5 separate regions of the Homo sapiens genome follow, and regions 1, 2, 3 and 5 are each linked to region 4. Evidence: fine-mapped expression QTL. A gene starts in region 4. Each other region holds a variant in brackets. All regions are shown on one strand. Distances are between the middles of the regions.

Evidence for each region. PIP is the estimated chance that this variant, and not a neighbour inherited with it, causes the effect.
Region 1: its variant is the best candidate, but not a certain one, in a credible set for the expression of RUFY1 in stomach (GTEx, PIP 0.65).
Region 2: its variant is the best candidate, but not a certain one, in a credible set for the expression of RUFY1 in T cells (TOPMed, PIP 0.72).
Region 3: its variant is the best candidate, but not a certain one, in a credible set for the expression of RUFY1 in fibroblasts (GTEx, PIP 0.82).
Region 5: its variant is the best candidate, but not a certain one, in a credible set for the expression of RUFY1 in whole blood (TOPMed, PIP 0.86).

The regions. Positions count from the first base shown.
Region 1 is chr5:179,651,785-179,657,728 of GRCh38, forward strand. LOC128966623 (a long non-coding RNA gene) reads left to right here. Exons shown (of 5, transcript NR_185480.1): 5 at 205-1,457. LOC100502572 (chromosome 5 open reading frame 60-like) reads left to right here. Exons shown (of 4, transcript NR_171894.1): 2 at 1-130; 3 at 510-673; 4 at 1,121-1,449. Among named protein-coding and RNA genes, the nearest start is that of SPATA31J1, 9.7 kb to the left of the region's middle. The variant G/A (reference allele first, on the strand shown) is at 3,527.
Region 2 is chr5:179,628,461-179,634,404 of GRCh38, forward strand. All of the region lies in intron 4 of LOC128966623 (a long non-coding RNA gene), which reads left to right. It also overlaps a transcript of HNRNPH1 not described here. Among named protein-coding and RNA genes, the nearest start is that of HNRNPH1, 7.8 kb to the left of the region's middle. RefSeq lists an enhancer at 4,044-4,544. The variant T/A (reference allele first, on the strand shown) is at 2,612.
Region 3 is chr5:179,570,687-179,576,630 of GRCh38, forward strand. The region is part of intron 5 of RUFY1 (RUN and FYVE domain containing 1); the gene reads left to right. All of the region lies in intron 4 of LOC128966623 (a long non-coding RNA gene), which reads left to right. It also overlaps the pseudogene PRDX2P3. Among named protein-coding and RNA genes, the nearest start is that of RUFY1, 23 kb to the left of the region's middle. RefSeq lists enhancers at 1,193-1,693, 5,687-5,944. The variant G/A (reference allele first, on the strand shown) is at 2,543.
Region 4 is chr5:179,547,425-179,553,368 of GRCh38, forward strand. It overlaps RUFY1 (RUN and FYVE domain containing 1), which reads left to right and starts at 3,130. Exons shown (of 18, transcript NM_025158.5): 1 at 3,130-3,455. The coding sequence starts at 3,146. All of the region lies in intron 4 of LOC128966623 (a long non-coding RNA gene), which reads left to right. LOC105377762 (a long non-coding RNA gene) reads right to left here and starts at 3,080. Exons shown (of 4, transcript XR_941315.4): 1 at 2,520-3,080. RefSeq lists a silencer at 3,055-3,764.
Region 5 is chr5:179,610,700-179,616,643 of GRCh38, forward strand. It overlaps HNRNPH1 (heterogeneous nuclear ribonucleoprotein H1), which reads right to left. Exons shown (of 14, transcript NM_001257293.2): 12 at 5,427-5,519; 13 at 4,847-4,896; 14 at 3,479-4,260. The coding sequence ends at 4,847. All of the region lies in intron 4 of LOC128966623 (a long non-coding RNA gene), which reads left to right. Among named protein-coding and RNA genes, the nearest start is that of RUFY1-AS1, 9.9 kb to the left of the region's middle. RefSeq lists an enhancer at 3,129-3,188. The variant G/A (reference allele first, on the strand shown) is at 2,630.

The sequences.
Region 1 (5,944 bases), 100 kb after region 4:
CCCTTGGGTCTCCATCATCCCTGAGCTCCTCCCAGGCATCAGAGCCTCTGTGTCCCCTGAAGCACCCTTCACACCGGCCACCTGCGAGCACCCTATCACCAAACCTGACCAGCTCCACAGAATCCTTGGGGTATCTGTCATCCCTCAGCTCCTCTCAGCCACCAGAGCCTTTGCGTCCCCTGGAATGTCCTTCACACAAGCCATGTGGGCGTTCCCTTCCCCGACGACGGAATCCTGGCTGGGTGTCCTGGTCCGACTCCATGCAGGCTGATTCCGAAACTGACGCCATAATATGCCCAATGTGCAAGGCCCCTGAGCGCTCCTGTCCACACACCTGGTGGGTGCCTTCTAGCCCTCGAGTGATCCGAGGCGTTGGTCGCTGCAGTGATCCCAACCTGGGCCTCTCCTGGAGGCAGGAGGCTGCTAGAGCCTGGTGCCACTGCACCTCCTCACAGTACCCATTCAAGCACCCTAATCTTCCCACCCACCTACCAAAGGCTTCTTTCTAGGGAGACCCCACATGCAGGCAGGCGGAGGCAGGGGTCCCGCTTTCCTCAGCCTGGATGTGCCAACGCTGCTGGACGCACAAGACACCAAAATCCCAGACACTCCCATGGACACCGAATATCCGACATCCACGAACAATTGGGAATCTCCTGAGGACAACTTGGAGGCGCGTCCCCTCATCTGGGCACCCCACAGATGCTGGAAATGCGTGTTCTAATGGATTGGGAGAGAAGGAGATGGGGTCCAAACCTCCAGTCCCTGGAGCCCGTAAATCTCCTTGGGAGGCTTGGCGCCCACAGAGACCTCTTCCACAGCGCTGCACACACAGATCTTCCTTCCTAGAGGATCTGAACTCACTTAGAAAACTGCCAGCACAGGAGGGATAACATCAGCTGTGCACCCCACTGGAGAACCCAGAGACTCTGGGTCATTGTCAACATTGCCCCCAGAATGGGCTCTCTGCTGGGGAAGATGCTCAGGAATTGCTGCTCTTTTGCAATGCCAGTCTCTCCTAACAGAACTGCAGATTCCACGTGTAGACCTGCAAACTTCTGTTCTCTGCAGTTCCCTGAGTCACAGTTTACACAATCACAATTTTTTTTTTTTTTTTTAGATGGAGTCTCACTCTGTTGCTCAGGCTGGAGTGCAGTGGCACCATCTTGGCTCACCACAACCTCCGCCTCCCGGATTCAAGCCATTCTCCTGCCTCAGCCTCCCGAGTAACTGGGATTACAGGCTTGTGCCACCGCACCCAGCTAATTTTTGTAATTTTAGTCGAGAGAAGGTGTCACCATGTTGGCCAGGCTTGTCTTGAACTCCTGACCTTGAGATATCTGCCCACCTCAGCCTCTCAAAGTGCTGGGATTATAGGCTTGAGCCACCACGGCTGGATGAATCACAAATTGTAAACCTGAATAAAATGCTGCAACCTCCAATGAGAGGAAAATATCTTCTTTGTTCAATTTTAGTTATTGTCTAGTCAAATGGTATCAATGTCATAGTTTAAAATTTCATTGGCAACAAGGCCTGAAATAGAGATGGGTGACTTCCCTATTTTGGAAACATGATCAAGACCCACAGCGAGTGGACTCTAGAAATAAACCAGCAGAGGCATGTGGGCTCACACTGGCCTCCAGGGGCTGTGCAACTGGCACATTATTTTGCACATAACTTGGGTCAGGTTTGTGAGGTCTGGTTTTTAAATGAAGCAACAACCATATAAAGATTTTCAAACAAATGAGTCAAATGTATGGCAGTATTTCTATTTTATCCTATGGCAAAATAATTCTTCCTAATTTTAATATTATTTTGTTCCTTAGGATTTGACAGTCTTAATGTTCAGCCAACATGGCTTAAGCTGATAAACTACTTAGAAGGATTCTTTTTTTTTGAGATGGGCTCTTGCTCTGTCACCCAAACTGGAGTGCAGTGGCGCGATCTCGACTCACTGCAACCTCCGCCTCCCGGGTTCAAGTGATTCTTCTGCCTCAGTCTCCCAAGTAACTGGGACTACAGGTGTGTGCCACCACGCCCGACTAATTTTTGTATTTTTAGTAGAGACAAGGTTTCACCATGTTGACCAGGATAGTCTCAATCTCTTGACCTCGTGATCTGCCTGCATCCGCCTCCCAAAGTGCTGGGTTTACAGGTGTGAGCCACCACACCTGGTGTTTTTGTTTTTTTTTTTTGTTTTTTTTGAGACGGCGGAGTCTCACTCTGTTGCCCAGGCTGGAGTGCAGTGGTGTGATCTCGGCTCACTGCAAGCTCCGCCTCCTGGGTTCACGCCATTCTCCTGCCTCAGCCTCCCGAGTAGCTGGGACTATAGGCGCCCGCCACCACGTCCTGCTAATTTTTTTTTTTTTTTAGTAGTGATGGGGTTTCATCATGTTAGCCAGGATGGTCTCGATCTCCTGACCTCGTGATCCGCCCGCCTCGGCCTCTCAAAGTGTTGGGATAACAGGCGTTGAGCCACCCCGCCCAGCCTTTTCATTTGTTTGTTTGTTTGTCTGAGACAGTCTCACTTTATTGCCCAAGCTGGAGTACAGTGGCGCGATCTTGGCTCACTGCAACCTCCACCTCCCAGGTTCAAGTGATTCTCCTGCCTCAGGTTCCCGGGTAACTGGGATTACAGGCGCTCGCCACCACTGCCTAGGCTGGTCCCGAACTCCTGGCCTCAAGTGATCTGCTGGCCTTGGCCTCCCAAAGTGCTGGGATTACAGGCATGAACCACCAGCTATTTTTTTTTTTTTTTTTTTTTTTTTTTTTGCCTCTCAGGCTCAAGCAGTCCTTCTGCCTCAACCTCCCCAGTAGCTGGGACCACAGACACACACCACCATGCCTGACGAATTTTTGTATTTTCTGTAGAGATGGGGTTTGCTGTGTTGCCCAGGCTGGTCTTGAACTATTGGCCTCAAGTGATCCACCTGTCTCAGCCACCGGGTCCGGCCCCTTCATGCTTTTTTGTTCGTTTATTTATTTATTCATTCATTTTAGACGGAGTCTCCCTCTGTCACGCAGGCTGCAGTGCAATGGCGCGATCTCGGCTCACTGCAACTTCTGCCTCCCGGGTTCAAGCGATTCTCCTGCCTCAGCCTCCTGAGTAGCTGGGATTACAGGCGCACTCCACCATGCCCAGCTAATTTCTGCATTTTTAGTAAAGACGGAGTTTCACAATGTTGGTCAGGCTAGTCCCAAACTCCTGACCTCGTGATCCACCCACCTCAGACTCCCAAAGTGCTGGGATTACAGGCATGCGTCACTGCACCAGGCCCCCTTCATGCATTTTTGAATTGAGTTGTTCCATTAGTTGTTGGCAAATATTTTCCCTCATTCTGTGGGTGGCTCCTTACTTTTTTTTTTCTTTTTTCCTTTTTTTTTTTTTGTCTTTTGAGATGGAGTCTTGCTCCGTGTGTTCCCCAGGCTGGAGTGCAGTGGCAGGATCTGTGCTCACTGCAAGCTCCGCCTCCCGGGTTGACGCCATTCTCCCAACTCAGCCTCTCGAGTAGCTGGGACTACAGAC[G/A]CCCGCCACCACGCCTGGCTAATTTTTTTTTGGATTTTTAGTAGAGACGGGGTTTCACCGTGTTAGCCAGGATGGTCTCGATCTCCTGAACTCGTGATGCGCCTGCCTCGGCCTCCCAAAGTGCTGGGATTACAGGCGTGAGCCACTGCGCCCGGCCACTTGTGTTTCTTTTCAAGAATGGACCCCATGGCAGACATCCATGAGTTTTCATGGTCAGAAATTGGTCTCATGCACACCCCAGCCAACCGAGGTGAGAGAAATGGCATTACAGTGATTGGCTTAGACACGTCAGGATATGTCCCTGAACCAGGACAAGAGGCACCTTCTCCAAGGGTGGATCCCAAAGAAAGTCAGAGGTCTTGGCAAAGAATGGGGAAAAGGGATTATGTAGGCAACCCAGTGTCTGCTACAGAATGAGCAGCGGAGAAGAAAGCAACCTGAAAGGCTGAGTAATTACAAAAAAAGACTAAATTAAATCCATACAAGAGCAAGTTTGCTCTGTTTCCACCTTCACTAGGAATGAGGGCTCAGAGCAGGGCATGCTGGGAAGTAGAAAATAAAGTTACCATTTTTCTGTTTCAGCCATAGCGTGTACATATTACCCTACTCTAGCCCACCCCCTTCTCTCACACACAGTAGTTGTTAAAATAAAAACTTGGCCAGGCGGGATGGTTCACCCCTGTAATCCCAGCACTTTGGGAGGCCTAGGTGGGCGGATCACGAGGTCAAGAGTTCGAGACCAGCCTGACCAACATGGTGAAACCCCATCTCTATTAAAAATACAAAAATTAGCTGAGTATGGTGGCACGCGCCTGTAATCCCAGCTACTCAAGAGGCTGAGGCAGAAGAATAGCTTGAACGCGTGAGGTGGAGTTTACAGTAAGCTGAGACTGTGCCATTGTACTCCAGCCTGGGCGACAAAGCGAGACTCCGTCTCTAAAATAAAATGAAATCAAATCAAATCTTGGGCTGGGAGGCCAAGATTATCTGTCCCGAAATTTGACAGATTATAATTATTTTTTAGAAGTGGAATCTTGCTGTGTCACGCAGGCTGGAGTCCAGTGGCACAATCACAGTTCACTGGAGCCTCCAACTCCTGGGCCCAAGCTATCCTCCCATCTCAACTTCCCAGCTGGCTGGGACCACAGGCAGGTGCCACCACACCCAAGTAATTATTTTTTAAGTATTTTTTAATTTTTTGTAGAGACGAAGACTCGTTTTGTTTTCTGGGTTTCTTTTTTTTTCTTCTTCTTCTTTTTTTGACAAGAGTTTCACTCTGTCGCCAGGCTGGAGTCAGTGGCACGATTTCGGCTCACTGCAACCTCCACCTCCCGGGTTCAGGCAATTCTCCTGCCTCAGCCTCCCAAGTAGCTGGGACTATAGGCGGGCGCCATCACACTAATTTTTGTATTTTTAGTAAAGACGGGGTTTCCCCATGTCGGCCAGGATGGTCTCGATCTCTTGACCACATGATCCACCCACCTGGGCCTCCCAGAGTGCTGGGATTACAGGCGTGAGCCACGGCGCCTGGCCCCCTGGGCTGGTCTTGAGGTCCTGGGCTCAAGTAAGCCTACCTCTGAGCCTTCCAAATTGTTGGGCTTATAGGCGTGAGCCACTGCACGGTCTCAAATAATTATTTTAGGGTTGAGTTTTTACTGAATCTGGTGAGTTTGACTAATGTAAGACTTCCCTTTGGCCCTGGGCAAGTATAAAAGATAAATTGAGGCCGGGCGCGGTGGCTCATGCCTGCAATCCCAGCAGTTTGGGAGGCTGAGGTGGGCGGTTCACCTGAGGTCAGGAGTTCGAGACCAGCCTGATCAACATGGAGAACCCCTGTCTCTACTAAAAATACAAAATTAGCCGGGCATGTGGTACATGCCTGTAATCCCAGCTACTCGGGAGGCTGAGGCAGGAGAATCGCTTGAACCCAGGAGGAAGAGGTTGCTGTGAGCCGAAAGTGCGCCATTGCACTCCAGCCTGGGCAACAAAAGAGAAACTCTGTCTCAAAAAAAAAAATTTTTTTTTTAATTAAAATTAAAAAAAAAAAAAGAAAGATAAAGCGAAGTCCATGTGTCAGGAGCAAGCACAGGACAAAGTCACACAGAGCGGTGTGAGAGGGAGGCTGGGAGGGCAGCCACAGCTGTGCGGGGTGGTCTGGAGAGGACATGGGGCAGCCACAGCTGTGCGGGGTGGTCTGGAGAGGACATGGGGCAGCCACAGCTGGGAGCGGGGGCAGGGGCTGGGGAGGAGAGGAGGAATGTGCAAGCTCAGCTGTGCAAGCTGGGGTCAATGGCTACATCAGAACCAGACCCCATTGCTGGTAGCTTCACCGTCTCGCTCTCATGGGGCCTCCCAGCTATCCCAAATCTCCAAGAAACAGACTCAGAGACCTGCGGTCAGAGGTCCAGCGAGGGGGAG
Region 2 (5,944 bases), 81 kb after region 4:
CTCCTACCTCAGCCTCCAGAGTAGCTGGGTTTACAGGTGCCTGCCACCACACCCAGCTAATTTTTGTGTTTTTAGTAGAGACCGGGTTTTGCCATGTTGACCTCAGGTGATCCACCCACCTCAGCCTCCCAAATTGCTGGGATTACACGCATGAGCCACCGCACCTGGCCAGGAATGTGTTTTAAAACCAATGATATCAGCTGGGCATGGTGGCTCACCCTGTACTCCTAGCTCTCTGGGAGGCCATGGTGGGCTGATCACTTGAAGTCAAGAGTTCCAGACTAACCTGGCCAACACGGTGAAACCCCGTCTCTACTACATTATCACATCTCATCCTTTTGGCAAAGATCAAGTGTAGGAAAAAAGATAAATTAACCGGGTGTGGTGGCATACGTCTGTAATCCCAGCTACACAGGAGTGTGAGGTGGGAGGATGGCTTGAACCCCAGAGACAGAGGTTGCAGTGAGCCAAGATCACACCACTGCACTCCAGCCTAGGTGACAGAGCGAGACTGTGCCTCAAAGAAAAGAAAATAAATGCAATCATAAATAACCCGGCTGGGCGCGGCGGCTCACGCCTGTAATCCCAGCACTTTGGGAGGCCGAGGTGGGCAGATCACAAGGTCAGCAGATCGAGACCATCCTGGATAACACAGTGAAACCCCGTCTCTACTAAAAATACAAAAAATTAGCCGGGCGTGGTGGCGGGCGCCTGTAGTCCCAGCTACACGGGAGGCTGAGGCAGGAGAATGGCTCGAACCCGGGAGGCGGAGCTTGCAGTGAGCCGAGATCGCGCCATTGCACTCCAGCCTGGGTGACAGAGCGAGACTCCGTCTCAAAAAAAAAAAAAGTAATAATAATGATGATATGTCGCCCAGGCTGGAGTGCAGTGGCATGATCTTGGCTCACTGCAACCTCCCCCACCCAGGCTCAGGTGATCCTCCTGCCTCAGCCTCCCAACAAGTAGCTGGGACTATAGGCACATGCCACCATGCCAGGCTAATTTTTGTATTTTTAGTAGAGATAGGTTGGCCAGGCCGGTCTGGAACTCCTGAACTCAAGTGATCTGACTGCCTCGGCCTCCCAAAGTGCTGGGATTACAGGCATGAGCCACCATGCCAGGCCAGAATTTGTTCGTAGTAGTACAGAAAATAATGGTGGGACTTAAAATTGATGATATTTTAGATTTGATGGAAACTGTTATACTCCAATTATTTTATGTGAAGACATGTTATAGCCATTATAATTATATTTTCATGGATTTCTTAATAATATGAAGTAGACTGGGTGCAGTGGCTTACGCCTGTAATCCCAGCACTTTGGGAGGCCAAGGCAGGTGGATCACTTGACATCAAGAGTTGGAGACCAGCCTGGCCAACATGGTGAAACCCCGTCTCTACTAAAAAAATACAAAAATTAGCCAGGCATGGTGGCACTTGCCTGTAATCTCAGCTACTTGGAGGCTGAGGCAGGAGAATCACTTGAACCTGGGAGGCGGAGGTTGCAGTGAGACTAGATCACGCCACTACACTCGAGCCTCGGTGACAGAACGACTCTGTCTCAAAATAAAACAAAAAAACAGAACCCTGAGATTTGCAAAAGAAAATATGCAGATGACCGGGCTCATGCCTGTAATCCCAGCACTTTGGGAGGCCAAGGTGGGTGGATTACCTGAGGTCGGGAGTTCAAGACCAGCCTGACCAACATAGAGAAACCCTGTCTCTACTAAAAATACAAAAATTAGTCAGGCGTGCTGGCAGATGCCTGTAATCCCAGCTACTTGGGAGGCTGAGGCAGGAGAATCGCTTGAATGTGGGAGGCGGCGGTCGTGGTGAGCTGAAATCTTGCCATTGCACTCCAGCCTGGGCAACAACAGTGAAATTCTGTCTCAAAAAAATAAATAAATAAAAGAAAAAGAAAAAGAAAAGAAAATATGCAGATGATCCATAGGCTTGAGAAGTGTCCCTTTGAGTGGTAACCAAAGAAATGCAAATTAAATAAAATAACGCAAAGCCTTTGCAACTAATTTTCAAATTAATGATCATTTAAAAGAGTAATTAAGAGAGCTGGAAAGGATGCAGGGAGATGCCATCAAGGTACATTGTGCTTGGAGTGTAAATTGGTACACCCTCTCGCTCAGGGCTATTTGCAGTATAAATGCATACATTTCGGCCTGACGCGGGGGCTCACGCCTGTAATCCCAGCACTTTGGAGGGCCGAGGTGGGCGGATCACAAGGTCAAGAGATTGAGATCATCCTGGTCAACATGGTGAAACCCCGTCTCTACTAAAAGTACAAAAAATCAGCTGGGTGTGGTGACGGGCGCCTGTAGTCCCAGCTACTCAGGAGGCTGAGGCAGGAGAATGGCGTGAACCCGGGAGGCAGAGCTTGCAGTGAGCCGAGATCGTGCCACTGCACTCCAGCCTGGGCGACATCTCAAAAAAAAAAAAATCTCAAAAAAGAAACAAAAACAGCTCAAAAAAAAAACAAAAACAAAAATCAAAAAACATACATTTCATTAAAGCATACATTCCATTCCTACTTTTGCACTGATTTAATTACAAGATTGTTCATGGCAGCATGAAATAGGGAAGCTTTAGAAAACAATTTAA[T/A]GTCTAATGAAGTATGGAATAAATTCTGGTATGAATGCATGGGGGTAGTGGGATGGGGAGGCTGTGAGGGGGAAGGAAATAAATCTTAGGTAACATAATGGTTTGTTGCCTTCCAAAGGGCCACAGGACATGAAAAGATATACGTTACGGTATATCTATGTTATTAAAATATCATGTGGTGGGAAACTAGGAAAAAAGATCTAGAAAGGATCTTTAAGATGGCGATCATGAAAAAAAAAGTTGAGAAAAAATGATCTAGGTTCCGTGTGGTGGCTCATGCCTATAATCTCAGTACTTTGGGAGGCCAAGGCAGGCACATCACCTGAGGTCAGGAGTTCAAGACCAGCCTGGGCAACATATTGAGGCCCCATCTCTACAAAAAGTTAAAAACATGCTGGGCGCGGTGGCTCACACCTGTAATCCTAGCACTTTGGGAGGCCGAGGCAGGCAAATTACCTGAGGTCGGGAGTTCAAGACCAGCCTGGCCAACATGGTGAAACCCCGCCTCTATTAAAAATACAAAAAATTAGCCAGGTGCAGTGGCGTAGGCCTGTAATCCCAGCTACTCAGGGGGCTGAGGCAGGAGAATTGTTTGAACCCAAGAATTGGACGTTGCGATGAGCTGAGTTCGCGCCACTGTACTCCAGCCTGGGCAACAAGAGCAAGACCTCAAAAAAAAAAATTTTTTTTTTAAATATTAGCCAGGCCTGGTGGCACATGCCTGTAGTTCCAGCTACTCAGGAGGTTGAGGTGGGAGGATCGCTTGAGCCCAGGAGGTGGAGGATGCAGTGAGCTGAGATCGCGCCCCTTAACTCCAACCTAGGCAAAGTGGGGAGACCCTCTCTCAAAACAAACAAACTTTAAATTTCTGAGTGATAAACAGCATCGGCCGCCTCCGGGACCTGCTCGGGTGGTACACTGCAAGCTGCGGAGACTTAAGAAAAGGGCGTCTCGGCCGGGCGCGGCGGCTCACGCCTGTAATCCCAGCACTTTGGGAGGCCGAGGCGGGCGGATCACGAGGTCAGGAGATCGAGACCATCCCGGCTAACACGGTGAAACCCCGTCTCTACTAAAAATACAAAAAAAATTATCCGGGCGTGGTGGCGGGTGCCTGTAGTCCCAGCTACTTGGGAGGCTGAGGCAGGAGAATGGCGTGAACCCGGGAGGCGGAGCTTGCAGTGAGCCAAGATCCCGCCACCGCACTCCAGCCTGAGTGACAGAGCGAGACTCCGTCTCAAAAAAAAAAAAAAGAAAAAAGAAAAGGGCGTCTCGGTTAGAGCCCGGGTATGGGGTAGCACCCCCTCCCCCGCCGCGGCCAGGCAGCACGGTCCGCCCTTGCGGCTGGGATCCCCGCGTCTCTCCGCCTTCGCTGGAGCCCCACTGTTGTGTTGAAGGAGACCGTCCTTCCGACGCCGAGTCCGGCTCCACAACCACGTAAACGAATTGTGGATTCAGACACCATGAGCGGCGGAAACAAAGGCGTCCCCACAGTGTCCAGCCGTCCGCTGAGGAGAAGGGTCTGCCCGACGGCCACCTGAGGAGGGACCGAGCACGCCCTCTCCGGTTCACGCTGCGCGCCTCCTCCAGGCGGACAACGCAGGCGGCCGGTTTTGAACTTTCCGGGTGCGAACCTCCCAAGGCTTCAGCCAGGTCACTCACTGTCTAAAGCCAAATCAAATATCTTTTTTTTTTTTTTTTTTTTTGAGACGGAGTCTCGCTCTTGTTGCCCAGGCTCAGCTTCCCGAGTAGGTGGGATTACAGCCCCACCAAGCCCGGCGAATTTTTTTTTTTTTTTTTTTTTTTTTGAGACGGAGTCCTGCTCTGTCGCCAGGCTGGAGTGCAGTGGCGCGATCTCGGCTCACTGCAACATCCAGCTCCTGTATTCAAGCGATTCTCCAGCCTCATTCTCCCCACTAGCTGGGAATACAGGCGCCCACCACCACGCCCAGCTAATTTTTTGTATTTTTAGTAGAGACGGGGTTTCACCATGTTGATCAAGATGATCTCAATCTCTTGACCTCGTGATCCACCTGCCTCAGCCTCCCAAAGTGCTGGGATTACAGGCGTGAGCCACCATGCCCAGTTAATTTTTGTATTTTCAGTAGAGATGGGGTTTCACCATGTTGGTCATGCTGGTGTTGAACTCCAGAGATCAGGTAATCCGCCGCCTCAGCCTCCCGAAGTGTTGGGATTACAGGTGTGAGCCACCACGCCCGGCCTGTTTGTTTGTTTGTTTGTTTGTTTGAGACAGTCTCACTTTATCGCCCAGGCTGGAGTGCAGTGGCACAATCTCGGCTCACTGCAAGCTCCGCCTCCCGGGTTCACGCCATTCTCCTGCCTCAGCCTCCCGAGTAGCTGGGACTACAGGCACCCGCCCCACACCCGGCTAATTTTTTTTTTTTTTTTTTTTTTTTGTATTTTTAGTAGAGACGGGGTTTCACCGTGTCAGCCGGGATGGTATCCATCTCCTGACCTCGTGATCCACCTGCCTTGGCCTCCCAAAGTGCTGGGATTACGGGCGTGAGCCACCGTGCCCTGCCTGTCCAAAAAATAAAATAAAAAGCCAGGCGCAGTGGCTCATGCCTGCAATATTAGCACTTTGGGAGGCCGAGGTGGGCAGATTGCCTAAGCTCAGTAGTTTGAGACCAGCCTGGGCAACACGGTGAAACCCTGTCCCTACTAAAACACAAAAATTAGCCAGGCGTCGCAGAGTGCACCTGTATTCCCAGCTACTCGGGAGACTGAGGCAGAATTGTTTGAACCGGGGAGGCAGAGGTTGCAGTGAGCCGAGTTCGGGCCACTGCACTCCACACTCCAGCCTGGGTGATAGAGCGAGACTCCGTCTCTAAAATAAATAAAATAAAATAAAATAAAATAAAATAACAAAGTAAGCAGTAAAACCATCCAGGCTTGGTAGTCACTATGGTGCTTTCCTCAGGGTCCCCTCCCACAGGCGGCTACTGAGGTCATTTTATCAGGCCCCCTGGGCTCACCTTTTGTTCCATCCCGCACAGGTGAGCCGTCTGGGCAGGCTTTGGCCAGCTTCGCGCAGGTGCCACTGCACAGACTCTCCCTTCAGAGCAGCGCTGGAGGACGGGGTCAGGAGTCAGTGCACAAATCCCTCCTGTCCTTGGGGCCGGGCAGCCACCGCGGCGGGGAGACCCCTCGCTAAGGAGGAGTGTTGGTGTTGCCTCTACTCGCCGGGTCGCCCAGGGCCCTTCACTTCCGAATCAACTCCCCACAGCCGCTGCTTTCAGGGGAAGCCAAGCCAAGTCACATACGGCACGCGCACTGGATCAAAATAATACACGCCTCGACATGCGCCAGACGGTA
Region 3 (5,944 bases), 23 kb after region 4:
CCCAGCCTTTTTCCTGCATTGTGTTTGGTGAATCTAAAGATTCCCTGATCCCTCCATGTGCAGGTCAGTGTTTTTTTATAACCTCTCCTCCCTTTAAAAAAAAAAAAAGTTCGATTGTCTTTGCATGTTGAAAAATATCTTTTTTTGAATTCAGAGAAGTATTTTTGAAAAGACACTAAACATCACACATATTCTCATTACTCTTAGACCGATAATTCAGTGTTACATTCTGGTATACACCCTTCTAGCAGATGAATAAAGGTGTGTGCATGCATGTGTGTGTGTATATGTTTGTGTATTTTAGAGTGAGATGTTCGAAGGGTTTCTTTTTTTATGAAACCAAACTATGATTATTTTAAGCACACCATTTTGTAATTTTAAAAAATTTAACAATATGTTCCACACAGTTCTCAATAACGAGAGATATAAACCATTTAAAATGACTATGTAGTATTTCATTTTTTAACGTACAATTATGTAACCAGTACCTTATTAATTTAGATTGTTTCCATATTGTGACAATACTATTGCTGGGCACATGGCTCACGCCTGTAATTCCAACACTTTGGGAGGCCAAGGTAGGAGGATCACTGGAGCCCAGGAATTTGAGACCAGCCCGGGCAAAATAGTGAGACCTTGTCTCTACCAAAAATTTAAAAAAATTAGCCGAGCATGGTGGCATGCTGTCTGTCATCCCAGCTACTCTGGAGGCTGAGGTGGGAGGATTGCTTGAGCCTGGGAGATCAAGGCTGCAGTGAGCTCTAATCATGCCACTGCATTGCACTCCAGTCTGGGCAACAGAGCCAGACTCTGTCTGGAAAAAAAAAAAAAAAACACCAATATTATAGACATCCTTGAAGTTCTCTGTACTCTTGTCCGTGTATTTCCTTAGGATAAATTTGGGGTTGTTGTGTCAAAGTATACAGGCTACATTTTGCTAGATAACATAAAACGGACCTCCAGAAAGGTCTTCATTATATACACCCACCAGCAGTGTGGGAGAGAACACATTTCCTCCTGACACTGGATGTGATGAGCATTCTCAGTCTTTTTCAGCCTCATGGACAAAACAACTCATTATCTCAAATTTACAAGTATTTTCCTGTTTTATTTGCCATTGGTGGTTCAGCATTTGTGATTATCTTTTCATATTCTTTGTCCATTTTTGAGTTTTCTTTCTCTACTTCTTTATTAAAGACTAAGCACATTGACCCTTTTTCAGAATTATTTGTTATAAATTTTTTTTCTGGTTTCTCAGTGGTGGTTTGCCCTGTAAGTTTTTTATTTTTAGTTTTTGGCAACCAGATTTAGCAGATGTTTCCTTTATACCTTCTAAGGTATTGTGCTTTGAAGGTCCTTCCCTATCTAAACATTACCCTAACTTTTAATATCAAATGTGGGGAGCTGGAACCTGAGTCCACGCGTCTGGTTGTCAGTCTGTCCAGCCTTTACCGCCACAGCTTTCAGTCATGGCTTCCAGTCAGTCGCAGCTCGGAAAGCCAGCCCCTGACTTCAAGGCCATTGCCCTGGTGGATGGCGCCTTCCAGGAGGTGAAGCTGTGGGCTACAAAGGGAAGTACGTCGTCCTCTTTTTCTACCCTCTGGACTTCACTTTTCTGTGGCCCATGGAGAACGTCGCATTCAGCGACCATGCCGAGGATTTCCGCAAGCTGGGCTGCGAAGTGCTGGGTGTCTGGGTGGACTTAGTTCACCCACCTGGCTTGGATCAACAACCCCCAGAAGTAGGGAGGCTTAGGCCCCCGAGCATCCCCCACCCGCTGATGTGACGGGAAGCTTGTCTGAAGATTACTGTGTGCTGAAAACCAATGAGGGCATTGCCTACCCTGCCTCTTTATCATCGATGGCAAGGGTGACTTTTGCCAGATCACTGTTAATGATTTGCCTCTGGGGTGCTCCATGGATGAGGCTCTGCAGCTGGTCCAGGCATTCCAGTACGCAGATGAGCACGGGAAAGTTTGTCCCACTGGCTGGAAGCCTGGTAGCGACAATGAAGCCCAATGTGGATGACAAGGAATACTTCTTCAAACACAACTAGGCTGGCCGATGGATAGTGAGCTTGTGCCCCTACTGGGTACCCTGTGCTAACCCAGGAAAGGCCAGACCTGCCCCTCCAATCTCCACAGTCTGGGACCCTGGAGGGCCAGGCCAAGACCTTCTGCTTCTACCTGGGTAATTTTTTACACACTTTATGTGTAAAAAATGTGTAAATTTTACACATTTTTGCCATTTGTTTTGGCATAGTGTGAAGTAGGAATCTAAATTTCTTTTACAAATAGTTAACCAGTTTTTGCAATATCATCATGTAATATATTTTTTCTACTAATTTGAAATTCCACTTTTATCATATGTGAAATATCCATAATATGCATTGGTTTATTTCTGGACTCTTCTGTTGTAAATCTGAATCTGTGTTCCTATGCCAGTGACACATTCTTTTAATGACTGGAGCCAGATAGTATATTCTAGACTCTGGTAGTTAAGCGCCTGCCTACTCTGCTGTACTTCTGTTTCAAATATTTCTG[G/A]GCCATCCATTCTGCCAGATGAACTTGAACATCGTTTTGTCAAATTCCAGAATAAAAACTCCATTGAGATTTTAATTAATTAATAGACATGAGTGAGCAATCTGGTCTAGTGCTATCTTGAATGGCAGTGCCTATAGTGTGTTCTTCAAACACACTATAGTATACATAATCATATACATAATAGTATACATAAAGTATACATGTTTGCTGCTGATGTCTGAGGGATGCGGTTTCTCACGTTTAGAGAGTGCTTTCCACTCCAGTTTACCTTGTGTTTTGTTGTTGTTGTCGTTTTGTTTTTTTCTTTTTTTTGAGATGGAGTCTTACTCTGTCGCCCAGGTTGAAGTGCAGTGGCATAATCTCCACTCACTGCAACCTCCGCCTCCTGGGTTCAAGTGATTCTCCTGCCTCAGCCTCCTGAGTAGTTGGGATTGCAGGTGCCTGCCACCATGCCCGGCTAATTTTTTGTATTTTTAGTAGAGATGGGGTTTCACTATGTTGGCCAGGCTGGTCTTGAACTCCTGACATCGTGATCTGCCCACTTTGGCCTCCCAAAGTGCTGGGATTACAGGCGTGAGCCACCGTGCCCGGCCTACTTTGTGATTTTTTAAGAGATGAATGTTGAATGTTGTCAGATACTTTTTTTGGATCTATCAACATGTCAACCTGCTTTTAACCCATAAATATAATTGAACTAATTCATAGGTTTCTTATTGAATACTATCCCTGAATTTCTAAAATAATCCCTACCTGATCATTGTAAACCCTGGATTTGATATGTTTACTGTTTGGAATTTTTGTGTCTCTGCTTGTAAGTGAAACTATTCTGAATTTTCTATACTGCCTTTGCCACCTTTCCGTGTCAGAATTGTATTAGCCTCATAAACTGGAAGGCCGGGCGTGGTGGCTCACACTCCCAGCACTTTGGGAGGCCGAAGTGGACAGATCATGAGGTCAGGAGGTTGAGACCGCCCTGACCAACATGGTGAAACCTGGTCTCTACCAAAAATACAACAATTAGCTGGGCGTGGTGGCGTGTGCCTGTAATCCCGGTTACCCAGGAGGCTGAGGCAGGAGAATCGCTGGAACCTGGGAGGCAGAGGCTGCAGTGAGCTGAGACCGTGCCACTGCACTCCACTCTGGGCAACAGAGCAAAACTCCGTCTCAAAAAAAATAAACATAAAAATAAAATAAACTGGAAAATAGCCTTCCTTTTCTTGTTTTCTACCGCAGCTTATTAGATCAGGAATTATTTTTTCTGTGCAGGCTTGCTAGAACTTACTGGTATGACCACTTCACCCTTATGCCTTTTTTGGTCTTTGTTCTTTGACCACTTTAACTTTTAGCATAGTTTTGATCAATTTATTGGTTTCCTAAGTCTTAAGACAATTTTTAAAGTCATTTATAATTTTTTTAGAAACCATTTCATTCAGCTCTACTAAGCTAGAGTTGTATGAAAGTATTCTCTTACAGCTTTTGAAAAATCTCACTGTTCTCATTTATAATGTGTATTTGCTAAATATTGATCACACTTAGTAGAAATTTGTCTACTTGGTTGAACTTTGACAAACCAGCTGTCTTATTTATCAATTCTACTTTGGGAGTAGGGCTTTATTTGCTTTCTAATCCATTGATTTTTGCTTTGGGTATTAATTCTTTCTCATCTTTCTGTTGCTTTTTCCTGGCTGTATTTTTTTATGATTTGGTTTTTTATTATAAAAGAAATGCTTGCTTGTTGAAAAAAGTTAGGCAATACCAAAGTATATAATGTGAAAAGAGAAGTTGAACCTCCTCTTCTCACCCCACCCCCCGCCCCAGCCGCAGTCCTCCTCCCTTTCCCACAGGTGATGGTAAAGATTCTGGGGAAAATTTTTCTAGAAGCTTTTCTACTTTTTCTATACATTTATGTTCACGTAGGTTTTGTTTTAAATTAAATATTTTCTGGTCTTCTATTACTGTGTAACAAGTCAGCAACAGCACTTAAACAATAACAATCACTGTATCTTTCACAGCTGGGGGCTAACTGGGTTCAGCTAGTCGGTTCTTGTTCAAGAGCGCACGTGCTTACAGTCAGGTGATGGCTGGGGCTGAAATCACCTGAAGACTTGCTCTCTCCTCGTCTGTCTGCTGTGCTGAGAAGACCAAGGAACTGGGGGCTGGAATGGCAGGGGTTTCTTGGACATCTCCATGTTTACATGGTCTCCAGCATTGTGGCTTCAGGGAAGTCAAGACTTTTTACATGAAAGCTCAGAACTTCAAACGCATATGCCTCAAGAGAAAGAGCTGGGTGGAAGCTGTATTGCCCTTTTTAACCTAGCTGCAGAAGTCACACGGCATCATTTCTACTGCATTTTACTCATCGAGACAGGCACTAAGACCCCCCAGAGTTGAAGGTTGGAAATATGGATGGATTCCTTTTGGTAGGTGTGTCAGAGAGGTTGCAGACATGTGTTAGAACCGTTACACATAGCCTTGGTTGCAACATAAGTAGGGTTACTATAATGAGATTGTACATATGATTCTTTGACTTGAAATTGTATCCTGGAGTTTTGTTGTTTTTTTTGTTTTGTTTTGGCAGTGTCTGACTCTGTCACCCAGGCTGGAGTGCAGTGGCATGATCTCAGCTCACTGCAGCCTTAACCTCCTGGGCTCAAGCAATCCTCTCACCTCAGCCTCCCAAGTAGCTGGGACTACAGGCATGTACCACTGCACCCAGCTAATGTTTGTATTTTTGTGGACACAGGGTCTCACTGTGTTGCCCAGGCTGGTCTTGAACTCCTGAGCCCAAGCCATCCACCCTCCTGAGACTCCCAAAGTGCTGAGATTACAGGCATGAGCCACCGTGCCCAGCTTTTCTATATTTCTGCAAATGTATCTACTGCGTTCTTTGTTATAGTTGCATAGGTTCTGTGATATGGCTGTAACATGATTGATTTCAACTTTTCTCTATTGATGAACATTTAGGGTACACCCAGTTTTCCTGTATTTCAGATAAGAATGACCTCACTTATTCATTCTCAAGTGCTTTATTTCTTGGCAAAGCCGTTGATGTTTAGATGTGTAAGGGGTCTTGGTTCTCCCTTGTACCTAAGGGATAGAGAATTTTCCTGAAATATTGATTAGACCATTTTACCAAGATTTGGGGGAAGAAGGACTCAGAAATGTCAGTTAAGGTCACCACTTTATTTTTATCTTATTTTATTTTATTTTGAGATGAAGTCTCGCTCTGTTGCCCAGGTTGGAGTGCAATGGCACGATCTCAGCTCACTGCAACTTCCGCCTCCCAGGTTCAAGCGATTCTCCTGCCTCAGCTTCCCGATTAGCTGGGATTACAGGCACCTGCCACCATGCCTGGCTAATTTTTGTGTTTTTAGTAGAGACAGGGTTTCACCATGCTGGCCA
Region 4 (5,944 bases):
AAGATCACAGATCACAAATCATATAACAGATGTAAGGGTAGTTTAAAAGTTTAGAATATTTTGAGAATTACGAAAATGTGAAACAGAGGCACAAAATAAGCACGTGCTGTTGGGTTGCCAACAGCAACTTTTTCTTTTTTTGAGACGCAGTTTTTTTTGCACTTGTCGCCCAGGCTGGAGTGCAGTGGTTCGATCTCGGCTCACTGCAACCTCTGCCTCCCAGGTTCAAGCGATTCTCCTGCCTCAGCCTCCAGAGTAGCTGGGATTATAGGCTCCCACCACCACGCCTGGCTAATTTTTGTGTTTTTAGTAGAGACGGGGTTTCGCCATGTCGGCCACGCTGGTCACGAACTCCTGATCTCAGGTGATCCACCCACCTGTGCCTCCCAGAGTGCTGGGATTACAGGCGTGAGCCACCGTGCCCGGCTGCCAAAAACTTTAATTTGTTAAAAAAGCAATAAAGCGAAGCACTATAAAATGAGATATATTTCAATATGTAAACGAGGCACAACTACCACTGAAATAACATAGACATTTGCACGTGTAATTCTGAACAAATCAATTTAGCTACGTTCCAGGAAAATTTAGGGTACACTTATGGTAGTCATTACACTGCTCACAAAGATTCCCAGTTGTGGTTTTCCCAGACAGAAATAGGTCTGAACTTCCCAACTCCCTAGAAATTAAACGTGGCCATGTGATTTGCTTTCACCAATGAAATGTGCATAAGTGACCTTTGTCATGCAGGACTGGAGCATGTAATATTTATGCAAAACTCCCAACAGGCTGGGTCCTGAGAGACTACAATGAGTTGGGCAGAGTACTCACCCCATCTACATTGACATGTAGCATGATGAGAAACCAGCTTTTAGGTTAAGCCATTGAGATTTGGGGGTTGTTACTGAAGAATAACCTTGCCTGATAAATGTTGAAACTGTTCCCCCAAAAAAGAGTTAATGTTTTTATACAAAATGGAATTCGGTTCCACGCCCTGATCATTATAAACAAACTTTTCACCTACATAAATGTCCAGTAGCATTGGAAAGTCATGAAGGATTCGGGACAATGCTGTTATTCTAGACTATCTTCATCCCTGTCTATGCATCCAGTAAAGACTAGTAGGGCCGGGCTCAGTGGCTCACGCCTGTAATCTCAACACTTTGAGAGGCCGAGGCGGGGGAATCACGAGGTCGAGAGATCGAGACTATCCTGGCGAACATGGTGAAACCCCGTCTCTACTAAAAGTACAAAAATTAGCCAAGTGTGGCGCCACGCCCCTGCAGTCCCAGCTACTTGGGAGGCTGAGGCAGGAAAATCGCTTGAACCCGGTAGGCAGAGGTTACAGTGAGCCGAGATTGCGCCACTGCACTCCAGCTTGGTGACAGAGCAGGACTTGGCCTCAAAAACAAACAAACAAACAAGACCAGGCCGGGCGTGGTGGCTCACGCCTCTAATCCCAGCACTTTGGGAGGCCGAGGCTGGCGGATCACGAGGTCAGGAGATCAAGACCATCCTGGCTAACACGGTGAAACCCCGTTTCTACTAAAAATACAAAAAAAAAAAAAAATTAGCCGGGCGTGGTGGCGGGCACCTGTAGTCCCAGCTACTCGGGAGGCTGAGGCAGGAGAATGGCGTGAACCCGGGAGGTGGAGCTTGCAGTGAACCGAGATCGCGCCACTGCACTCCAGCCTGGGCGACTGAGCGAGACTCCGTACGAAAACAAACAAACAAAAAAGACTGGTAGTATGCCCTCAGTCATTACACAACTCAAACACCAACTCCACAAATTCCCAAAACACTCCTAGATGAAGTGGTATCCCTTCACTGAGAACTGGCCTTTCAGGGACCAGACATATCATGCAACCTAGTGAAGTGGGCTGGACCAAGACAGGTCCAGGGAGCAGCTGGGCGTCTAAAGGGGCAGCACAGTTTATTCCCAACAGTTTGTTGCCATCTGGGAATATGCCATGAGTTACCAAATATTCCAGTGATTCCAGAGAAAGCTAAAATCCAGATTCTTATGTGAAATCTTTTGATTTCTAAATATTGGCAACAAGTTTTAAGATTTGTAAACATTCTGGGAATCAAAACAGCTCTGCTGGTTTGGTGTGGCTCATGTTGCCTCACTTTGCAAAGTGTTAAGTGCTAGTAAATTTTAGTGTTTTTTCTGAGACAGGGTCTCACTTTGTCGCCCAGCCTGGAGTGCAGTGGCCATGATCTCCGCTCACTGTGGGATCGACCTCCCGGGCTCAAGCGATCCTCCCACTCTCAGCCCCCCAAGGAGCTAGGAGTAGAGCTGTCCCGCCACGACATCTGGCTGGTTTTTTGTTGTTGTTGTTGTTGTTGTTTTGGTATTTTAGTAGAGACGGGGTTTCGTCCTACTAAAGGCCCGCCTGGGCCTTCCGAAGTGCTGGGATTACAGGCGTGAGCCACCGCGCCCGGCCAAAATTTTCCTTTGTACTTACTCAAATTCCTTTCTTTTCCAAGTGAAGAAACAGACTGAGTGTATAGTGACTTACCCAGGCCACACAGTTGGATACCAGAGATAGTAGTCACAATCGCTAACATCTGCCATGTGGTCCTTACTGCAAATCTTATTTAATAATGAGGTCGGTTTTTGTTATCCCACTTAACTAATCAATAGGAGAAGCCACCTCTGATTTCCAGTCCACTATCGTGCACTCTTTCTTGCCAAGCCGTCATAGTCATTAGATTAAAAAAAAAAAAAAATTCCTGCTTTCCTGCCTCGCCTGTGCGTTTCCTTAGTCGCCCTTTCGGGGCTTGTTCTAATGAGTGCTACAGAAAAATGACGAAGTGGAAAATATAGACCATGAAATGAAAATTTAAAAGAGGAAATGGTGTCACAAAGACAACGACGGCCAGGGAACCCCGTGAAGCGCCGGGCAGGGTGCACAACTGTCCTCGGAGAAAGTTCAAGAGGAACTTCCCCGCGAACAGGTCCTGCCGGCGGCCGGGAATACGCACACTTTTTATGTTATGACTTGGACTTTCCCGAACCTTTCGAAACAGAGGGAAGGCGAGGCGGTGAAGAGGGAGAAAAATCTCCCCCACCTAAGGCAAAGGCGATGCCCGCCCGCCCCCACCCCGCGCCCGCCCGCCCGCTGGGTCACATGACACGGCCAAGATGGCCGACCGGGAAGGCGGCTGCGCTGCTGGGCGGGGGCGGGAGCTGGAGCCGGAGCTGGAGCCGGGGCCGGGGCCCGGGTCAGCGCTTGAGCCGGGAGAAGAGTTTGAGATCGTGGACCGAAGCCAGCTGCCCGGCCCAGGCGACCTGCGGAGCGCAACGAGGCCGCGGGCGGCCGAGGGCTGGTCGGCGCCCATCCTGACCCTGGCACGCAGGGCCACCGGGAACCTGTCGGCGAGCTGCGGGAGCGCGCTGCGCGCGGCCGCGGGGCTGGGCGGCGGGGACAGCGGGGACGGCACGGCGCGCGCAGGTAGGCTCGGGCCGGGTCTGTCCCGCGGCGGACTCGCGTGTCCCCGCTGGCCGCCGGCGCGGGCGCGGTGGGGGCCGGGCTGGGAGGGCACTGGCCGTTCCGGGAGGTTACGCGAGCTGTTGGCGGGCGGGCGGCGCCTGGCTGCGCCTGGGTCTTTACTCCGGCGGCCCAGCCGAGACCGCCCCCCGCAGCCCCGCGTGCCTGAGCGCGCTCCCGCACCCGCGCCTCTATGCTCTCCCACTAACTAGGTGAAGGACGTGTGCGCGTCCGGGCTTCGGAACTCTGTAGTAACTCCACACACGAAACGGAGCCAGCACTGTTCTGCTTTTCAGCCGTTCAGTGCGGGAGTGGAGCGCCGGCGGGTGTTGGGAGGGCGTGGGCCCTGCGCGCAGCGGACCAGCGGCGCCTCCGCTCACCTCTGCCTGTGAGATGGGGATTTTAAAGTCACCCGATGATCTCTTAAAGACCTTTTCAGCCCTTGTAATGAACAGAGTGCCAGCATATCAGTGATAGTAAGAGTTAAGTAACTTAGCCCTCTAACGCCAGACATCCAGAGCTGTGCTATCCAATACAACAGCACGCATATGTTTTTGTGTGTGTGTTTTTGTTTTTATTTATTTTTATTTTTTTGAGACCGGGTCTTGCTCTGTCGCCCAGGCTGGAGTGCAGTGGTGCGATCTCGGCTCACTGCACCCTCTGCCTCCCGGGTTCAAGCGATCCTCCCTCCCGCCTCAGCCTCCCGAGTAGCTGGGATTACAGGTGCCCACCACCACGCTCGGCTAAGTTCCCCGCCCCCACCCCCCTCCCATATTTTTAGTAGAAACGGGGTTTCACCATCTTGGCCAGGCTGGTCTTGAACTCCTGACCTTGTGATACACCTGCCTCGGCCTCGTAAAGTACTGGGACTACAGGCTTGAGCCACCGCGCCCGGCCGGATTCCTCAATTTCTAACTGAATCAATTGAAATTCAGTACTTTTAAATTGAATTAAAAATTGAGTTCCTCGGCCGGGAGCGGTGGCTCACGCCTGTAATCCCAGCACTTTGGGAGGCCGAAGCGGGTGGATCACGAGGTCAAGAGATCGAGACCATCCTGGCCAACATGGTGAAACCCCGTCTCTACTAAAAATACAAAAAATTAGCTGGGTGTGTTGGCATGCACCTGTAGTCCCAGCTACTCAGGAGGCTGAGGCAGGAGAATCGCTTGAACCTGGGAGGCAGAGGTTGCAGTGAGCCGAGATCGCGCCACTGCACTCCAGCCTGGGTGACAGAGCGAGACTCTGTCTCAAAAAAAAAAAAAAAAAAAAAAACTTGTTCCTCGATTACAGCGGCCACATTTTAAATGCTCAGTAGCCTGTGTGTGGCCAGTGGCTACTGTATGAGATAGCACATAATAGAACATTGCCAACTTCATAGAAAATGCTGGGACAGAGCTGAGGAAAGGTTGTGGTGCCTTCCAAGGAGCATCATAGCACACACTCGAGGCTTCCTGATTCCTCCCCATCCACTGGTACCTTTGCTGTAGATGCACTGACCCCAGGTAGTGAATTGTGAGATTTTCAGTGGTCAAGAATAATTACTGAGTAAAGTTGAAAGGCTGACTCGTTTTGAGATCCTGGCAGTGGAAAATAGCATTAGAGGATGATGAGAGCCTGGGCAGGCCGGGAATCTACTGCCCTCTAGCTTGACACCTTTTCCCGAGACTTTTCCACACATCAGTGGATGCTGAGTTGCATACTCATTGACAGTCAGTACTGAAAGTCAAGGCATGGCGTCTCCTGGAGGCCTCTTAGATATTTCGTGGCAGGAGTAAGCAAATAATAAAAGTTCTTCCCTGCTAGAATTTCTTTCCTTTAATGCAGAATCAAGGAAAAAATTAAAAAGATAAAATGAAATGTGTCAGTACCTGGCACAGAATAATAAGTGTTTGCTGAACAAATGCATATTTGAAAAATACCTGTGTTCCATCTATGGAAGTGATAGAAACAATAGCCAACACTTATATTGTCCTTCAAAGGTGCCAGGCATTAGTCTTAAACCTGTACAAGTATTCATTCATTCCTCACAACAACCCTATGTGATAGCAGGACTAGCTTCATGGGTGGACAGTCAATGCAGGCTTTGATCACTCTGGTGGAAAGGGCCAGGCACTCAGAAGTATCCCATGCTTGAAATTCTTAATTTTATCTTTGAATTTGTGTTTTTTAAGTGAAGTCCAATGGGACAGGTTCTCAGTTGCCCTGGCCCACTCGAGCTGCCCTGGGGCTTCTCCCTACCCTCCCTGATCCCACTCTTGCCCAGGCAGCGTTGGGATTGCACCCTCCGAATCTCAGGGCAGGGTGGCTGGTACCACAGCACATTAGGCAGGCAAGTGGGCAGGGGCCTCTCACCTGTCCCATCCCTGCAGGGAAGTTGCAATCCATTAGGGCTGTAGTAAGGGGGAGTCTGACTTCTGTGCTCTGCTCCAGGCCGGGAATTTTGCACTGGGCCT
Region 5 (5,944 bases), 63 kb after region 4:
GCTTGGGCAAGACTCAAGGATTCCCCCTCCATCCTATACCGCTTAGGACTGTGCGGCCAGACTTCAAGACGAGGTCCGCCCTGCTCCAAAGCCATGTCCTAGCAGGGTTCCAACCCTATTAGGCAAGCACATTGGCAGCCCTCCCCTTTCCTCACCCCTCACCGTAACAGCTGCCGTCTCATACAGGGCCAAACTTTCAGAAAAAACTGCCTATCACTCACTACCCCTAACTGGCATATATGACATCTGTGCCTTTTCAATACACCCAGTTTGGACCCCTAACTTGCTGGGCAGCCTTAGGCAAGTCAGTTCACTTGAGTCTTAGCTCTCATCTGCACACACAAAAGCAGAATAATCTATCCCTCCCCTACTTCAAGTCTGTTCTGACAGCTCAGTATAAAAACATGCAGGAGGTTCCCACCTCTGTGCCTGACACTTGGGTATAAACACAAGTGTTTAAGTGAAATTTTCAAAGTTGGCAATATTTGGTCAAGATAACTTCCCTACTCAGAAACTGAAATATATTCCAAGCCCTAACTCTGGAATCTCCAGTCCCTGGTCTGCTACCATACCACCTTTACCCAGGCCTGAGAAATGAAAGATAGATATTTTAAGGCAGCACTTCCCAAGTCAACTGAGGTAGGGGTGAGTGGTCAGGATTTTGTTTAAAATGCAGATTCCAACTGACAAGGTCAGGAGGTTAAGTTACTGCAAACAAGCTATGGAGCATAAGATTCCAAAGAACCATAATGCTTCTAGACTTTTTTTTGAGACAGGAATTTCGCTCGTTACCCAGACTAGAGTGCAATGGCACGATCTTGGCTCACTGCAACCTCTGCCTCAGTAACTGGTATTATAAGCGTGCACCACCATGCCCAGCTAATTTTTGTATTTTTTAGCAGAGACAGGGTTTCACCATGTTGGCCAGGCTGGTCTCGAACTCCTGACCTCAGGTGATCCACCCACCTCAGCCTCCCAAAGTGTTGAAATCACAGGCGTTAGCCACCGCCCCTGCCCTAGACTAGCCGTATGGCTCTGGATTTAGTTTAACCTTACTCCAAGTTTCTAGTTCTACTCCCTTCTCTAACAGGGCAAGCTTTATCCTTAAATGTACCACAGTTAACTAAAGAACCCAGAGAAGGGACCTTCAATCTTTCTCAATACTGGGCCTCAGTACCAAACTATTAACGCAAGATCTCAAGGGCAGTAACCAAGCTTAGAACACAGCTCAACAACTCTCAACACTGCCTCCCCCGACAACTGCTGTTCTCTAGACCTGCCAAAGACAAAACCAACAATACACATTCCAGACCCTTCCCTCTGCTAGTGTCCAGTCCTGGTAGGGGCAAGCAAGGTAGATCTGCAAAGCCCTCCCCTCCATGTCTCCTGCATGCACTGCTCCTGTGGGCAGATGGTTAGAAATGACCGATACTAAGCCACTCTGTCCACCCTACCTAGCTCTACCCCAACAACAAACTCAAGAAAAGCTCGTGTAATCGCAGAAAAGAGAAAGCTTATCCACACTTCGCTTTAAAGGGCGGCCGGGCGCGGTGGCTCACGCCTGTAATCCCAGCACTTTGGGAGGCCGAGGCGGGCGGATCACGAGGTCAGGAGATCGAGACCATCCCGGCTAAAACGGTGAAACCCCGTCTCTACTAAAAATACAAAAAAAAATTAGCCGGGCGTAGTGGCGGGCGCCTGTAGTCCCAGCTACTTGGGAGGCTGAGGAAGGAGAATGGCGTGAACCCGGTAGGCGGAGCTTGCAGTGAGCCGAGATCCCGCCACTGCACTCCAGCCTGGGCGATAGAGCGAGACTCCGTCTCAAAAAAAAAAAAAAAAAAAAGGCACAAGCCTATGTGACAGCCTAGTTCAGACACTACATTCTAATTTCATTATCAGGGACTTGAATCTAATGGGATGAAAGTAGTAGCGGCAGTTCCCACACTGCAGCACCCCTGAGCATCTGCTGAAGGAACCCCGGGAGCGTGCTTTTCAGGACTGCTTTTGTGATACCCAACCTTGTATTAACACGAATAGACTCTCCCTTACATGCCTAACCTTGTTTTTAATATGAAGACTCCCTTCGCTGAGAAAACCAGGCCAACTCCATTTGGCTCCTTCATTTACAAGACATCAAGGGCTCCTTACCCACCCCCCTTTCCTCAAGGACTTTAACTTGTGCAAGCTCTCAACGTATCAAAGAGTGCAGTTAACTGATAAGGTGCTGAGGCAAGCGATGTCCAGTTCCCAGCAATTTACTCAGAGATGGTACCATCAAGCCCCCATGTTTGTCCGGTAGATAACACCCAGAGCCCCCTCACCTGTCACTTTGTGATGAATTTGAAGCTCCTGCACCTGGAACTGTTTTCCTGTAACCATTTGTCTTTAACTTTTTTGTCTGTTTTTCTTCCCTAAGATGGCTGCAGCTAGAATCCCCCTCCCCTCTCCAAACCAAAGTATAAAAGAAAATCTAGCTCCTTCTTCGAGGCCGAGATACTTTCATGCGGTAGCCGTCTCTCGGTCGCCGGCTAATAAAGGACTCCTGAACTCGTCTCCAAGTGTGGCGTTTCTAACTCGCTCAGGTACACCACTTGGAAGCAGCTTGAATACTTGCTATCATCATGTTGGA[G/A]CTTCGAACTACCAAAACGTGATATATTTAAGAGTTCATTTAAACTTCTCATGTTAGCTCTCAATCTCTACCTATCGTTCTACCTTAGGAGACTTACATGGAATTTTGCTTCCAAGTGGAATTGATTTTTAGGAATGACCCAAAAATACAGAAGTTCAAAACTTCCATTTGAAAACCATCTGTGAAGGCTGGGCAATGGCTCCAGCCTATAATCCCAGCACTTTCAGAGGCCGAGGTGGGCAGATCTCATGAGGTCAGGAGTTGGAGACCAGCCTGGCCAACATCGTGAAACCCCGTGTCTACTAAACATACAAAAAAAATTAGCCTGGAGTGGTGGTGGGCGCCTGTAACCCCAACTACTTGGGAGGCTGAGGCAGAAGCCCACAAGGTGGAGGTTGCAGGTGAGCTGAGATCACGCCACTGCAATCCAGCCTGAGACAACAGAATATAACTCTGCCTCAAAAAAAAAAACAAACCTATGAGCTTATGAGCTAGAAGAAACCCACATATTCATCACACCTCCCTTGCCTCCGGCACCTTCCCAGCCAAGCATGAAGGCCTCAAAGACATGCAGGCATGCAGTGAGGGCACTGGCGCCTCCCCCTTTGTTTTGTGCAAGTGCTTAATGAGTTACAGGCAGTTCAGATCAGGTCCTGTGCAGCCAAATGACATACAGCCCTTCCACCAGGGCCCCAAAGACGAGTTTACCTTCAGTTGCACTGGAGGGAAGACTGAAGACATCTACGCAACAGCCTCAACTGCCAAGCCAGAGATGTGGCCCTAGGCCCCAGGTGGGCACAGAGCACCAAGACTCAGTCCACATGACACTGAAGCACAGACAAGACAGAGTGCAGTTTTTAAAAGGAGGATTTATTTGACAAGTTTCACTTAGCGCAATATACCTAAAAGGAAATCACAATACAATGAAAGATTTAAATCAAGGCCTCAGAATTTCATACAAACACCAAGACCAAAATCCTAAGTATTGGTATTGCGTCTCAAATTTTTCCCATTAACTTAAAAAAAAAAAAAGCTTAAACTTACGTGCCTTACAGGTTATTAAATGAAACTAGAATTAACAAACATGCCAAAATGTTTCACTTTTAATAGTAGACACAGCTCCTATATTGTTTTACAAAAAAATAAAAGCATGTCTTTCAACATGCATCCAAAACAGTGTTCAATTTAACGTGGCAAAGGGCAACATTTAACATAATTCAACTGCTTTTACCTAAATACGCTTACTGCTTAAGTACATCCTATAACTAACTTGAGAAAAGCTGGAACTTAAGTTTAACAGTTATAGTTTACTCAGCTTCACTGTTACATCCTAGATGAGTATTGTATTCAAAAATACTGGGCCTTAAGTCTTCATAACAATCCTGATTTCCACTTAGAGTAAGCATAAATCACAAGCTTGTATTGCAGAAACTGTTAAACTGAAGTTTTCTTAAAGAAAAAAAAAAAAAAAAAAAAAAGGTTGACCAAGAGTCAGTGATCAGGATCGATCAATTACATTCCCCATCCACCACTCATACTGGACATGCTAGACAACCCTCCCATTCCGTTCACGCCCATAGATGCACGGCTTCCACTACTGTAGTAGCTGCTGTTCACTGCTCCTTGGTTACCTGCAAAGAGATCAATTTGACAAGTTAGGAGTAATATCAGACTACCAGTCAAATAAAATATAGTATTCCAAGAAAAAGTTTAAAAAGTATACGAGTACAAATGGCTGCTGTCCAAGTGGCGAGACGCATGTTTGGGAAAGGGGAATCCCGACTCCAAACAAGCCTCAATTAACCCCTTTTCTCTGCAGTACCAACTTGCCAGACTCTTGTGCTACCATTTTAACGGATTCTTCAGGATCAACATGAAAAATTAAGTTTAAAGGAAAACTAGTGTTTTTCAAAAATTGCAAAATTACTTCGTATTTTTAAAGCTAAACAAGGCATTTTTAAAAAAAATTTAACATAAACATTCACAATGTGTCCCTCGAATGGCATTTGAGAAAAGGGAGCACAGGGGAAGTCTCTTGCTTTTCCTATTCATGGTGGGCAGGAAGTGAGACAACCAAGCTGGACTAAAGGCAACTCACTGTGCCCAAATGGCAGCCTCCATGGAGTTAAGTCAGAGCCATTGACTGCTATAGAAAGCATTATTACAACATATCAGTATTTGCTATTGGGAATTTATATTTTTTGAGAAAATATTTACCTATGCAATGTTTGATTGAAAATCACTGGAGTTTTCCTGTAAAACTTGGTCTGCAAAAGGATTTTGTAGGGTAAGACTATAATACCAAAATCACCATTCTTTAGACCAATTGAAAAAAAATAAATAAAACCAATCCTAGGTTAACTGACTAATAAATACGATCCTGAACCCAACCACCATTCTACTATTTCAAATTCTCCCTCTGTCTAAAACTGACTTAATGCTAACCAAAAGACAAAAAAGTGAACAACTTTATTTAATGTTTTAATACATGGAGGCAGATATTTTCTGGCTCGACAGTATTCCAAAGCTGCAATGACTAGTTCTTAATTCAAAGAACACTTCCCCCTCCCAATGATTGTTTCTGAAAATTAGCTAGTAAAAACAGTTACATTTGGATTGAAAGCATACATTTCATAACCCAATTTCACCGAAAGGAGCCTGCATCTTCCCAACTAAAGGCACCTGCCTGCGACTTACTCTAAGTACAGTAACAGGCTTTACCATAACTTACTCTAAGTACAGTAATGAACAGGCTTTACCATAACTTACTCTAAGTACAGTAACAAACAGGCTTTACCGTATCCACTCATGCTGCTCTGGCCACCGTAGCCGCCTCCGTAACCCCCACTCAGCTGCTGGCTGGCTGGGCCCCCGTAGCTGGACTGGTTTGCTGTTAAGTTAAGAAAACATTAGAACCTTTTTTCTTATGTGATGTGGTACCTGGTGGTACCGGGCTTGTAATTCTATAGCTATCATTTTCCAGTCTTGATCTTACATTACTGTAACCCTCTGCCTCCTTCTGCCTACTGTCTATAACCAGGCCACCCTTCTATCCATCATTTGAGCCAGTCAAATATTGATAAACCAAAGTGCTAACGGTACACACATCAGCAGGACTAAAATCAACATGATTCCGTAAGTAGAGGCATTTTGTGAAGATCTTATGAAACTGCTTGACTGGATTTAGTGGGTTCCCCCTCAGTTTGATACATCAAAGGCATGTCAATACACCTAATTATGCCCACATTTATCTTAATCCTGTTTTGCTATTGATTTAAACTTTATACTTAGAAAATTTAAGTAGTTTCACTCCGT